2 separate regions of the Homo sapiens genome follow, and region 2 is linked to region 1. The links come from fine-mapping of genetic effects on gene expression. Tissue or cell type: monocytes after LPS. Region 1 holds a variant in brackets; the other region holds the start of a gene. All regions are shown on one strand. Distances are from middle to middle.

Evidence for each region. PIP is the estimated chance that this variant, and not a neighbour inherited with it, causes the effect.
Region 2: it holds the start of BIRC3, and the variant in region 1 is fine-mapped to the expression of BIRC3 in monocytes after LPS (Kim-Hellmuth 2017, PIP 0.95).

What each region holds. Positions count from the first base shown.
Region 1 is chr11:102,398,802-102,406,287 of GRCh38, forward strand. It overlaps TMEM123 (transmembrane protein 123), which reads right to left. Exons shown (of 5, transcript NM_052932.3): 3 at 3,115-3,405; 4 at 2,738-2,891; 5 at 1-90. The coding sequence ends at 66. Among named protein-coding and RNA genes, the nearest start is that of TMEM123, 50 kb to the right of the region's middle. The variant C/T (reference allele first, on the strand shown) is at 3,352.
Region 2 is chr11:102,313,949-102,321,434 of GRCh38, forward strand. BIRC3 (baculoviral IAP repeat containing 3) reads left to right here and starts at 3,536. Exons shown (of 9, transcript NM_001165.5): 1 at 3,536-3,623. It overlaps LOC124902739 (a long non-coding RNA gene), which reads right to left and starts at 3,295. Exons shown (of 2, transcript XR_007062864.1): 1 at 3,138-3,295; 2 at 1,947-2,624. RefSeq lists enhancers at 2,983-4,182, 3,087-3,156, 3,167-3,526, 4,328-4,527, 4,788-4,837 and 2 more.

The sequences.
Region 1 (7,486 bases):
AATAAACCAAAATTAATTGATAGGGCAGCATCAATCTGTATTCCATCCTTGGTCCATGGATTTCCTTAAATGATGGCATCATGTTCATCTCTGTAATATATTAAAAGTTACAATTACTTTGTTTTGTTTTTTCTGTCAAAACTACTTATGTTCCTATTTGTTAGTAAAGTAGGATTAGAACAATTTCAAGCTGCACAATCAAAATGGTCAGTGTTCTGTGTAAAGTTCCTTAAGTATCCAATATACTGTAGTGGTTAAAGATCTGGGGGTTAATGGCATGGGGATCCACCATCTTGTCTTGCTGCAATCATAGACACAGACATAGCTTCTATTTGTAAGTCCCTATTAAATATTTCTTTCTAGCTGGTCACAGTGGCTCATGCTTATAATCCCAGAACTCTAGGAGGTCAGAAAGGAGGATCACTTGAGCCCAGGAGTTTGAGACCAGCCTGGGCAAAACAGTGAGACTACCATCTCTATAAAACATTTAAAAATTAGCCTGGTGTGGCATTGCATGCTTGTAGTCCCAGCTACTCAGCAGGCTGAGGTAAGAGGATCACTTAAGCTCAGGAGGCTGAGGTTGCAGTGACCCGTGATCGCACCACTGCACTCCAACCTGGGTGACAGAGCCACTGCAAAGCACTCTGTTTAGTCATGGTTTCTTTTATGTATTCTTTCATGTATTGACCTTAAAAAAGAATGTTTCTGAATATGCCTTTAATCTGACAAACCACCACCTTAATATTCTTTTAAAATCAGTTTGAGCCTACAGCCATGCCACTGTGAATGTGTCTGATCTCATGTGATCATGGAAGCTAAAGTGAGTTTGATATGATAAATATATGCAACGTAACTTTAAATATAACTTTTAAAAATATGTTTTTAAGGCCAGATATGGTGGCTCACGCCTGTAATCCCAGCACTTTGGGAGGCCAAGGTGGGAGGATCACCTAAGGTCAGGAGTTTGAGACCAGCCTGGCCAACATGGTGAAACCCCATCTCTACCAAAAATACAAAAATTAGCTGGGCGTGGTGGTAGGCACCTATAATCCCAGCTACTGGGGAGGCTGAGGCAGGAGAATAGCTTGAACCCAGGAGGCAGAGGTTGCAGTGAGCCGAGATCGTGCCATTGCACTCCAGCCTGGGCAACAAGAGGGAAACTCCATCTCAAAAAAAAAAAAAATCTGTTCTTAAATTATCATTTTTGTTTAAGTATTAGTAATATAACTGTTAGATCCAATTTTCATTTATGATGCGATGTTTATTTAGAGCTTATGTCAGTAACCTGAAAATCTGGGAAACTTCCATGTTCTTAAAATCTATCAAGAAGTTTGATTTACTTTTATGTGTACTGAATCATATGTAGTGTCAAAACTGGAAGATTCCAATGGCCTATTCCAACATTTCCCAAAATGTGTTCCACACAATACTAGTTCCAAGAGATAGACAGTGTTAGCTCCCATTGAAGAGGGGCAGGGGGAGGGATTTATTCATTCAACAAGTATTTTGGTTAAAAATTTGGGAAACAGTTCATACTGTATTCCATCCTGGAAAATCATAATGTATATCAATATTTTAAAGGCTTAGAGAAGTCTTATAGTAAACTGTCTTAGTTTACTTTAGTCAACTGAACATTTCCCACACTTTTTGATATAGGAACTGTGTGTGTGGGACACATGTATGTCAAATGTTAACCCACAGGGCAAATTTTGGAAAACAGTCATCTGTTCTATGGTATTTATATACATTAACACTAAAAAAAGTGAATTAGCTCTTACATTTGTGTCACCCAATATGAGTATGTTGAAACCCTAATCCCAGTGTGATGATATTTTGAAGTGGGGCCTTGGGAAGGTAGTTAGGTCGTGAGGGTGGAACCCTCGTGAACAGAATTAATACCCTTACAATTAGAGGTCAGAGAACTAGCTCGCCTTCTTTCTGCCATGTGAAGAAGGCCCTTACTAGAACTCAACCATGGTGGCACCCTGATCTTGGACTTCCAAGCCTCCGGAAGTGTGAGAACTAAATGTCTGCTGTTTAAGGCACCCAGCTGTATGATACTTTGTTGTGTCAGCATGAACTAAGACAACACGTAAGACTCAAAAAAACAAAAACAAAAAGGACTATTGGAGCAACAAAAGTTTGGATATATCCTCAAACCATCAGACCTATAGAGCTACATGTAGAGTAAACATGGATTAGGTCTTGTTGATAATGCACATCTAAAAAGAGAGTTTTGCTACAGGTAAAATGATAAATTATATTATTTATACTAACCACTCATTTAAATTTTCAGGGATAATGAGGCTGTCAGAGGAATTTTTTTTGTCTTTGTCGTGGAAAACAAAAGCCATGGTTTTACCAAGGATGCTATTTAGTACCACAACAGACACAGACATACTAAGTCAAAAGCCTGCTGGGAACTGGTATTTCTTACGATTATTGGTATGAGTAAGTGAAAATTTCAGGGTAGGTTAACTTTGGTCTCCTGTAAAGTGTGTTTGACACTAGTAAAATACATTTTTTTAAGTATATACATCCATTTTCATTTGCAAATAATTATAATCACAAGCTTGTACATAAACAATTTACTTTGGGCCAAAAGGGTTAATGGGAATATAACTCATAAATCTATCAATTATTCATCCCTGAGATGAGCACTGGCTTGATATTCTATCATAATTAAAGATGTGCACCAACAATTTTTTTTAAAAAGTCCTGGCCATTCAAAACTTACATGGTTCGATACCGAATGCCTCTTCTTGAGTAATACATTTTGCATCCAATGTAAAGAATAGATAAAACTCCCAGCGTTAATACAATACCACCAACAAAGCTCCCAGTATCAAATTTTGATCCTTTCTTTGCTTCAGAATGCATAGTTGTTGTGACTAGAACAAAAGAAAACAAAAAAGGGCTTTAGCGTTATTTTTTTTTTTTTAACATTGTAATTAAAGCTCTCTGATTTTCTGTGTTAAGAACATTTAATTAGGAATTAAGGGAAATCTAGGCATATAAAGTTTCTATATTATTTTTGCCAGACAGAATAATGACTTAAATGTGGCATTTAACTACTTGCAGCATAGGAAAAAAAAGGTCAGCTTTAATACATACTTGTTACTGATGAAGCAGCAGATGTCACTGAACTATTGTGGGTTACGGTCATTGTGGATGTTGATATCTGAGATGTGTTCTGTGAAACACTTGTTGTTTTGGGTGTAGACTTTAAGGTGGTAGAAGTCATATTTGTTGAGACCATCCCTGGTGTTGTTGTATTAGATGCCGCTGTAGGTTTCATGGTGGTGACCGTTGTATTACTGGAGTCTGAGGCAACTGAAGTTGGTGGTTTCA[C/T]AGTACTGTTGGAAGTTTCATTTGTATGGTCAGAAGGCACATGTTGGAGAGTCTCTGCAATAATATCAAGAAACATTAAAACCAGAGCTATGATTTAGGGAATAAGATCCCATTTCACTGAGACTTTCATGGTCACAGACAAAGCAAGAGATCTTACAAATACAGCAGCATTTAACATACTTAGCCCATTAATACTTTGCACTATACTGCAATAAAATGTCTCAAACTAGTAAAAGACTCAACAGAAACCAAGTCTAAATTTATATAAAGTTAGAAATTTTGGGGAAGATATGAAGAAAAAAAAAAACAACCCAGAAGACAGAGTTCCCTCAGTGCAGGGACATGTCTTAATCATCTCTGTCTGAACATCTCAACGTATTTCATATCACATAATAGGCTTTCAACAAATATCTGTTGAATGGATGGATAAACTAATGAATATAAAAATGGTTTTTAAATTTCCAGTTCTCTGCTATACCTTCCAAGGGGCTTTGAGGACAATAAATCAGTAGCTGCATGTTTCTAACCCTCCTGGTAGAATGGGAAGTCCAAGTGAGTTATTTTTTGTAAAAGTAAAGCCAACTTCCCACTATGCATTAGGAAGTGAGATACCATCACAGAATGTGGCTAGCTGTCATACTGGTAATAATAATTTCCCATAGTTGGAAGGACAGTTCTAAAACTATCTGTGAAAGTTTTACAAGTCCAAAAGCCAATTTTGTATGAAAAGAAAAATTAGTGATTTAAAATACACAACTCAAACAATACCTTTGCTCATACCTGCAACTGAGTTTTTCTTTTTTGGGGGGTATAATGTAAACAGAAACATATAGGTACAGATCTTGTTAATGCTCCTTAACTTCTTTTTTGTTTTTTGAGATGGAGTTTCACTCTGTCACCCAGGCTGAAGTGCAGTGTCAAGATCTCGGCTCAATGCAACCTCCGCCTCCTGGGTCCAAGTGATTCTCCTGCCTTGACCTCCTGAGTAGCTGGGATTACAGGTGCCTGCTACCATGCTGGCTAATTTTTGTATTTTTAGTAGAGACAAGGTTTTACCATGTTGGCCAGGCTGGTCTTGAACTCCTGACTTCAAGTGATCTGCTCGCCTCAGCTTCCCCAAGTGCTGGGATCACAGGCATGAGCCACCGTGCCCGGCCAATACTCCTTAAAATAAACTTCGATTACTTTTGTTTTCATCCAGCAAAGGTTTCCTTCTTTTTGCATAAAATATGGCCTATAACCAGAAGCAAACCTTTCTGTGTTAATTTTATTTCATACTGCATCTTCTTTTTAACACGACAATTTAACTAACGTTTACAACTATAGGTACCTATTAGGATACAATGTCTAGGGAATGAAAGCTTTTAATATGTCTTTGTCCATTTAATATGATGTAATATATTTCTGTATTCATTTCCTGTCTCATAGTTTATTTTCAGGTTTTTTGGTTTCCTATGTTGCCTACTGCTATGGTTTGGATTTGGTTTGTTTGTCCCTATCAAAACTCATATTGAAATTTGATCTCCAATGTGGCGGTCTTGGGAGGTGGGGCCTAGTGGGAGTTGTCTGGATCATGGGGGCAGATCCCTCATAAATGGCTTGATGCCCTTCACGTGGTAGTGAGTGAGTTCTCATTCTGGCAAAACTGGATCAGTTCCTGTGGAAATGAGTTCCCATGAAAGGGGGTTGTTATAAAGCCAGGATGCTCCTCGGGTTTTCTATCTTTGCAGTTACCCACTTCCCCTTTGACCTTCTCGGCCATGTTGTGGCACAGCTTTATAAAAGCCCTCCCCAGAAACCAGGGCTTGCAGAACTTTCCCAGCCTGCAGAACCTTGAGCTAAATAAACATTTTCTTTATCAATTACCTAGTCTCAGGTATTCCTTTATAGCAACACAAAATGTACTAAGACACCTTTATACTCCCATTTTATTATATATGTCCACATACTTAAGGTACACAGAATTAACCACTGGACCTGCTTTCTCCTTTCCCCCAGTGAGAGCAGTACCAATGCCTTAGGTTCCTTGCCCCGCCACTGTTGTCAAGTACCAAAAGTGATACTTCATATATTATCCTATCTTCCACAACTATTTTGGCCTTATTCTTGAAAGACAGACAGATTGATATTTATTTATTTATTTAACTTAGAGACAAAGTCTTACTCTGTCACCCAGGCTGGAGTGCAGTGGCATGATCTCGGCTCAGGGCAACCTCCGCCTTCTGGGTTCAAGCGATTCTCGTGCCTCAGCCTACTCAGTAGCTGGGATTACAGGCACATGCCACGACGCCTGGCTAATTTTTGTATTTTTAGTAGAGACAGCGCTTCACCATGTTGGCCAGGCTCGTTTCAAACTCCTGACATCAGGTGATCCGCCCACCTCAGCCTCTCAAAGTGCTAGTACTACAGGTGTGAGCCCCTGCACCTGGCCCCTATATGTATTTATTATTGTTATTACTATTTTTGAAACAGTCTTGCTCTGTCCCCCAGGCTGGAGGGCCGGTGCCTGCGATCTCGGCTCACTGTAACCTCTGCCTCCCAGGTTCAAGCAATTCTCCTGCCTCAGCCTCCTTAGTAGCTGGGATTACAGGCATGCACCACCAAGCCCACCTAATTTTTGTACTTTTAGTAGAGACGGGGTTTTGCCATGTTGGCCTGGCTGGTCTTGAACTCCTGACCTCAGGTGATCTGCCTGCCTTGGCCTCCCAAAGTGCTGGGATTACAGGCTAAGCCACCATGCTCGGCCCCAGCTATATTTATTTTTGACTTAACTGTCAAAACAAGTTGGTTTTAATAGTGCTGCTTACTTGCATATCGGGTTTTACTACTGGAATTTCTACTACTTTCTTCAACTTTGGGTCTCTGTGATCTCTTCTACTGAGTATGACCTATTTTCTTTTTTCTTTTTTTTTTTGAGACAGAGTCTTGCTCTGTTGCCCAGGCTGGAGTGCAGTGGCGTGATCTCAGCTCATTGCAAGCTCCGCCTCCCAGGTTCACGCCATTCTCCTGCCTCAGCCTCCTGAGTAGCTGGGACTACAGGCGCCCACCACCACGCCTGGCTAATTTTTGTATTTTTATTAGAGACGGGGTTTCACCTTGTTAGCCAGGATGGTCTCGATCTGATCTCCTGACCTTGTGATCTGCCCGCCTCAGCCTCCCAAAGTGCTGGGATTACAGGTGTGAGCCACCGTGCCCGGCCTGATCTATTTTCTTAATAAGGCCAAAGGAATTAACGCTTTTATACTACATAGGCAAATAAATAATAAATATCCAAGTAGGTAATACAAATGCACTAAGTTCAAATGAACTTGAACTAATCTTTTCTTATTCAAGTCTGAATGTTCTATAGAGATATAAGTAATAGAATTTAACATTAAAATAATCACCTTTTATTTAAAAATGCTGAATGGATTCTATTGCAATGAAATTAAATACAGCAAAGAACCAACGTTTATATCCTATCTTTAGAATAGAATGATCCCGCAGAATAAAACAATGAACACAATGCTGCTTTCGGATTCAACACACACACACACCCCTCCCCCTGCCCTCTGGTATAATAAAACATTCTTCAAAGATACTGTACAAAGTCACATGGGCCAAAATAGGAAGCTATAATAGGTTAGTTCTCCGCTAAGTCAATCCAAATGTGCTAAAGAAACAAAAAATTTTGTCAATTTCTATGTCAATTTCTTTGTCGATTTCTATGAATTGACAAAACAGGCAAAAGGAAATTTTGCATTAAACTGTGTTTCCTGATGCTTTTAAGCATAAATGAAATGCAAGGATGCTCTCCAAATTCACATTGGATGACCCAATCTTCTTCTGTAATAAGTAAATAGTCACTTGTTTTCCTCTGCAAATGATACCATCCCAACTCTGGTCTTCTTCCCTCTCCCTTAACTGTTGAAATGCTGACTGGCACCTCTAGGAGTGGCACAGTTAACACCTGCAAAGAGATGCAGAATGGACCATCCCTGTGGGACTTGCAAGGGGTGAAGCTTTATCTAAGTCTGCCCATCTTAGCCACTCAGTCTCCTCCAGCCTCCGATAAGCTAAGGTTGAAGAATCTGAGGCGCATATGTTGCTGGAGGGTGTCAGTGTGCAGGGTGTCCACTCCCTCCTCTGTCTATGG
Region 2 (7,486 bases), 85 kb before region 1:
TTGGCTCTATTTTTGTTAGTCAGTAAACAAAGGTTTACTGAGCACCTTTGAGCAGACACTCTACTAGTACTAGAATAATGCAGTGAACAAATATATACAGTGCTTGCCCATACACATTTATCTAGGGAAACCATTTTTTTTTTAATTGTGCAAAATGTTGCAAAGCAGACATGTTAATTTGCTTCCAACCTACTAGGCCTGACCCTAGCTCTCATGACCAGTTTGAAAAACGCGAGACTCAGTCAATTCAGGGATTTCTTAAGCCATGGTCTTTATTTATTTTTATTTATTTACTTTTTTGGCAATGGATTCTTGCTCTCTCTCCCAGGCTGGAGTGCAGTAGCGAGATCTCAGCTCACTGTAACCTCTGCCTCCCCGGGTTCAAGCAATTCTCCTGCCTCAGCCTCCCAAGTAGCTGGGATTACAGGCACCTGCCACCATGACCCGCTTATCTTTGTATTTTTAGTAGAAATGGGGTTTTGCCATGTTGACCAGGCTGGTCTCGAACTCCTGACCTCCGGTGATCCACACACCTCAGCCTCCCAAAGTGCTGGGATTACAGGTGTGAGCCAATGTGCCTGGCCAGCCATAGTTTTTAAACTGGGGTAAGTGTGCCCCTGGGTGTTTACAAAGACTTACCAACAGGGAGGTGGGAGCTCAAATAGTTTTAAGGAATTAATAGTCTCACTCTCAACTTCCATATGTAGCTTCTCCCAAAACTGATCTGCTTGAAAACAAGAACTGTGAAGGTTGCCAGGGTTGTTCTGTCTTCTCATCTCCCTTTTCACAATGGTTCTCTGTCTTCCCTTAAAAGACAGGCTCACCTCTCACCTATCATGAGTTTTAAAATCGTATATTTCTCTGGGTGTAGAAACCTCCTGGATGATTTGAAATAATCGATCTGTATTAGTGTTGAGAAAATGAATGACTCTAATATCTGGATATAGGGTTGCCAGGTAAAATACAGAACACCAAACTGAATCTAAATTTCAGATAACTAATGAATAACTTATTAGTATAGCTAGGTGCCAAATATTGCACAATACATTCTTATACTGGAAATGCATTCATTGTTTATATTAAACCAAAATTTAACTAGGTGTTCTCTGTTTTAATTTGCTAACTCTGTCAACTGTATCTGGATACCAAAAGTTCAGTGGTTTCTAAACCACCAATTTCAACAAAATTGAGTTGTCTACTGATAAGTAATTACATATTTTGATTAGAGATCACTAAATGATTTTTGGAATATAAAACATATTTTTTAAATTGTGAAAAAATTGCCATAATAATGTTTCTTCTGGGCCTATCTACTTATCTACTTACTTCTGTGAAATAAGGTTTACAACATTTATGTCTGTAGAAATGAAAAAAGGAACAGAATCTGTGCTGAACCCTAACATATTATAGCTATAGGTAATATTCATGACTGCACACTTGAAAAACTTGCTTAAAATACAAGCTGCCACCCCCTTAAATTGTATTTGTAATGCAGTTATTAACATTTACGATATTTTTATATTGTATTGACCAATTATGCTTTAAAAGTAATGAAAACAATATCAATGATAATGTAATCAAAGAGGATTTTTTTTTTTTTTTTTTGAGATGCAGTCTCACTCTGTTCCAGGGCTGGAGTGCAGTGGCACTGTCTTGACTCATTGCAACCTCTGCCTCCCAGGTTCAAGTGATTCTTGTGCCTCAGCCTCCCAAGTAGCTGGGACTACAGGCGTGCACCACCACACTTGGCTCATTTTTGTATTTTTGGGAGAGACCGGTTTCACCATGTTGGCCAGACTGGTCTTGAACTCCTGACCTCAGATGATCCACCCACCTTCGCCTCCCAAAGTGCTGGTATTATAGGCGTGAGCCACCATGCCTGGTCAAAGAGGAATTTTTTTTTTTTTTAACACTTAGATCCTTATGATCCCAGAGAAAAAAATAGATTTCAAGTTCTAATATGTATTTGTTTCAGAGATATGTGACAGAGAGATGATAAAAGATGTTCAGTACAAACATGTATTAACATTCTGTAGGGGAATTGGAATGTTCAATGACAAAAGGCAATGATAAAATATTTTCAGTTATTAAAGATGACCTGATAATTGCTTCATGGATGATCATGTATGTCAAATTACTATGGTATTAGGATCCATCAAATACATTTAAAAGAGTGCTCTATCAATTTTTTCTGAAAATATCTATGTTTACATTTTGTAGATTCTTGACATGTACAAGAGCTTTATGTTTTAATGTTAAGTTAAAAATGGGCAAGGGAATGCAGAGCTTTTCAAAATTCTTCTGGTGAGTACATAATCAAAAATGTGTAAGGCCTGCAAATTATTTTCAATAATCTCAGGAGTGAGTTGAAAATGGCTTAGAAAGTCTTGATTGAAGCAGACTCAAATGTGGATTAAAATCTCCATATGATAAATACACTTAGTCTTTCTGAAATAATTCCAACTGGAACTTCAGCTGCTATGGACAGCCAAGTCCACCTAAACAAGAGGATGCCTCAGCTCAGTCCAATTGCGTGCAGAATGCACTGGATGCTGTTTCCACAGAACGATGAAGTCTCCAATAATCTTTATGGGCTCTGTCTCTGGTTGGTAATTGTCTTTGATCTACTGGAAGATAGAAAATCAGATGAGCTCTCCAAATCCATCTGTTACCCTGGTACGGATGGCTCTCAGATAAAGTTGCTTAAATTTACTGCTTAGAGAACGTTGAGGGAAATATGGCAGTGCAATTAGACTCAAAGATGTCAGGTTTCCCTGAGAATGGCACTGCAACTCAGAAACCTGCCCTGTGAGATCAAAGGCTATAAAGGAGGGATTTTTTTAAGTAGCCAACTCCACCCTACTTATTAAAAAAAAAAAAAAAACAACTCACCAAACCAAACAAAAGTATTTCCATACAGAAAATTTACCAAGCCATTTCAATCTTTAAAATGGTAAAATAAACTGCAAAGGAGAACTGCATGATTTTTTTCACATACCCCTACATTTCCTTTCACCTCTTACTTTCTTGATCAGAACAAAAAGTAAAAATAAATAGAAATATTTCACAAAGTTTCGATTTTTTTTTTTTTAAATGCTGGACTTCTGCAGCTATAGTAGAAGATTGAAAAACCTAACCTTTTTACGTGTAAAGTGTATGGCGGATGGAGGGTGGAGAACAGGGCATATTGACCTTTTCCAGGCAGGCTAAGCAATGATCGTCCTCTCTATATGGGTTGTTATCAAGATTTCCTCTGACCCACGAGCAATGAAGCAAATGTCTTTCAGTAAATGCCGCGAAGATATGCCACGGTTAAGAGTCATGCTTTTGGGTCATGGAAATCCCCGAGTGGGTTTGCCAGGCCACTGATTAAGAGGAAGTGTGTGTGGTTATTACCGCTGGAGTTCCCCTAAGTCCTAAAAGGAAAGCACCAGTGCACATGCAAACCACTGGGAGGAGTGCGGAACGCCTGGTACAGATAGGGGTGGGGATTTGGGTGACGCATTTAAAAGACAGCGTGAGACTCGCGCCCTCCGGCACGGAAAAGGCCAGGCGACAGGTGTCGCTTGAAAAGACTGGGCTTGTCCTTGCTGGTGCATGCGTCGTCGGCCTCTGGGCAGCAGGTGGGCAAGGAAGGCTGGTGTGTGTGTGTGTGTGTGTGCGTGTGTGTGTGTGTATGTGTGCGCGCGCGCGCGCCTCCCCTGGTGTAAGAGATGTGCCAGCGGCTGGCCGAGGGGCGCTTAGGGCTAGAGCCCGGGGCGCTGCAGAGGTTGAGAGTCAGTGGGTGGGGCGCAGTTATCAAACACCAGGGCCCAAAAGCAGGCTCTAGATAGGTTCCAGGTGCTCAATTTCTATTTCACGTTTGGAGTGAGCCAGTGGAATTGTGAAGTTGTGGCATTTTGATTCGGTTGCCAAGAGTTATCACTGGGCCTTTGCAGGTGCCAAATAAATTTCAGGACAGAGCCTAAGGCAGAGCTCTGGCACAGGAAGGAAGTAAAACGTTTAATGAGCAAATGGACGCATGTTTCCAAGCGGTGGTAGGAAGACAGCAGTTTTTGGTTGTCTTCCTGGTGATCAGCATGGAAACCTAGTAGTGCTCTTACTCTGATCAATACATTGTCGAAGGCATGTACCTGATGCTAACGTAACAATAATATTAAATATTGACTTTATTTGCTATTATTTATTGCTAACATTAAGTACTGCTACCTGCTATGTGCTAGGTTTGTCTCTGAAGACTTTACATGTATTTTTCACGTTTAATTATCATAATCTTAAGAAGCAGGTACCATAATTATCTCCATTTGACAATGAGGAAACTGAGGCTCTTGGAGATTTACTTGTGCAAGGTCATGCTTCTGGTTACCGGACTGCTTGGTATTGGGCACCCCCGATGTCTGACTCCAAAGCCTGATACTAATCAATCACTGAGCTGACTCTGTGGTCATTAATATAAAATTGATAGAAGTACTGTGGTCACTCAGGTCTCAGTCATTTACTTCTTCAACGGGAAGTCTTCGTGTCTACCCCATATACCAAGCTCTGCAGATGCTATGAGTGGGAGGGCAGGTACAGAGATGAAACATATTAATAGTTGCCATTCTAAAAGAGCTTACTGTCTAGCGGGAGGCAGAAAGAAAAGGCACACTTGCCCTCCAGTGTCAGAAAAATGGATGTGCTGCATGCCCAAAGGGTAGGGATGCCCAACAGCCCTGGGACTGGGGAGGTTGCCTTCTTGGTAGGTTAAATGAATGAGTCAGAAGAGGAGAGGCTGGGGACTGAGCCAATCTGAGAAGGAACCACTAGAAATGAAAGAAGAATCCCAAGAGCTTGGTATCAGAGAAGCCCAGGGAATGGGACATTTCTAAGAGGAAGTGTGTCCCAGTGTCAGATGCAAACATTTCCATTGGTTTTAGCAAAAAAGCCATTGGTGTTATTAACACCGAAAGCAGTTTTAAGTGATGCTGACTTAATGAGTAAATGGGAGAGGGAAAATGGAGACATTAACCATACACACATGTCCAGTTTGCTTGGCTGTGAAGAGAAGGGGTGATACAGGGTAGTTGCTAGAGTGGAAAGTGTGGTTGAAAGAGGATTTTTTTTTTTTTTTTTTGAGACAGAGTCTCACTCTGTCACCCAGGCTGGAGTGCAGTGGTGCAGTCTCGGCTTACTGCAACCTCCACCTCCCGGGTTCAAGCGATTCTCCTGCCTCAGCCTCCTGAGCAGCTGGGACTACAGGTGCATGCCACCACACCCGGCTAATTTTTTGTATTTTTTTTAGTAGAGACGGGGTTTCACCGTGTTAGCCAGGATGGTCTCAGTCTCCTGACCTCGTGATCCACTCGCCTCAGCCTCCTGAAGTGCTGGGATTACAGGCATGAGCCACCACACCCGGCCGAAAGAGAATTTTAAAAATTTCTTTCATTTGAAAGTTGAGATAGATTTAAGCATGGTTATGTGAAAGGAAAAAGGCCAGTCGAGAGTGACAGGAATGAGAGTTGAAGCAATGAGGGGATGGGATTAAGAACAAGATTTCTGAGGCAGTAGGACAGTGTAGGATCCCATAAGGGGGCAAGTCTTTAACTGAGACAGCAAGTAGGTTGTGAGCCAAAACGGCTTGGATATGAGAACGTGAGAAGGTTCCTGCTCAATGATGTCTCTTTTCTTTGAGAAACAGAAGGCAAAGTAATTGACTGAAAATGAGATGGAGTGCAGTGGAGAAATTTGAGGAAGGTGTTGAAGGTTTAGAAGAGGTGCATAGGGCATGGGCTAGGGAGCTGAGCCTATTGCTAAGGGATGGCAGAGGAGTCTTAAGTGATGCTGGTCCCAGTCTGCAGGGTTGCATCTAGGTGTTGGAAATGATTAGGACAGAGGTTGAAGTGATCTAGGGTTGACATCTTGGCATATTTGTGTATATTTATTGTATAGTTGTTGCCTAAATTTCCACAAATATATGCCTTGCTGGAGTGCAGTGGTGTGATCTTGGCTTACTGCAACCTTCACCTCCCGGGTTCAAGTGATTCTCCTGCTTCAGTCTCCTGAGTAGCTGGAAATACAGGTGCGTGCCACCACGCCCGATGGTTTTTTTTTTTGGATTTTTAGTAGAGACAGGGTTTCACCATGTTGGCCAGCCTGGTCTCGAACTCCTGATCTCAAGTTATCTGCTTTCCTTGGCCTCCCAAAGTGCTGGGATTACAGGCGTGAGCCACCACGCCTGACCTAAAGCTTCTTTAGGATAAGATTTGTGTAAGGGGTTTGCAAACTCAAATGGAGGTGATATAAATGAGAAAAACTCTCAGTGTCTCTCTTTCTCTCTCTCTCTCTTTTTTTGAGACAGGGTCTTGCTCTGTCACCCAGTTTGGAGTGCAGTTATGCAGTCTCACACTGCAAGCTCTGCCTCATGGGCTCAAGTGAACCTCCTGCCTCAGCCTCTCAAGTAGCTGGGACCACAGGCAGGTGCCACCATGTCTGGCTAATTTTTGAGTTTCTTTGTAGAGATGGTGTTTTGCCAAGTCACCCAGTTTGAGGCTGGTCTCAAACACCTGGGCTCAAGCAATCCATCTACCTCAGCCTCCCAAAGTGCTGGGATTACAGGAGTGAGCCATGGCATGAGGCCTTGTGGGGTGTCTCTTTTAAATGAAAGCATACTCTGTTTACGTATTTGATATGAAGGAATATCCTTCCTTTCCACAAAGACAAAAATTATCCTATTTTTCTCAAAACATATGTCCTTTTTCTCTACTTTTCATTTTTGTTACTTTTGATGGACACATGTGTTACATTGATTTCACTTTCTCATAATTCTGCTGTAAGAAAAACAATAGTGCCAGTTCAATGACAAATAGCAACAGTCTGTTATTGCTAGACTGTTACTGTTAGTGGAGACTACCAGAACAGTCAGTCCCAGTGTCAGGGAATCAAAGAGAACATGTTCCCTCTCTAAAGGGCACAGCTGCTGCTCAGCTTTAGCTGATTGCTGCCCTGCAGGACTATAGGCCCAGTGTTGCTAGATCTTTTGATGTTTCAAGAGAAGCTTGGAATCTAGAATGTGATGGGAAGTCTCTTACATTTAAACATGTTGGCAATTAATGGTAAGATTTAAAAATACTGTGGTCCAAGAAAAAAATGGATTTGGAAACTGGATTAAATTCAAATGAGGCATGCAGATTAATCTACAGCATGGTACAATGTGAATTTTCTGGTTTCTTTAATTGCACTGTAATTAGGTAAGATGTTAGCTTTGGGGAAGCTAAGTGCAGAGTATGCAGAAACTATTATTTTTGTAAGCTTTCTCTAAGTATAAATAAATTTCAAAATAAAAATAAAAACTTAGTAAAGAACTATAATGCAATTCTATGTAAGCCAAACATAATATGTCTTCCAGTTTGAAACCTCTGGGTTTTATTTTATTTTATTTTATTTTTGAGACAGAGTCTTGCTGTGTCACCCAGGCTGGAGTGTAGTGGCACTATTTCGGCCCACTGCA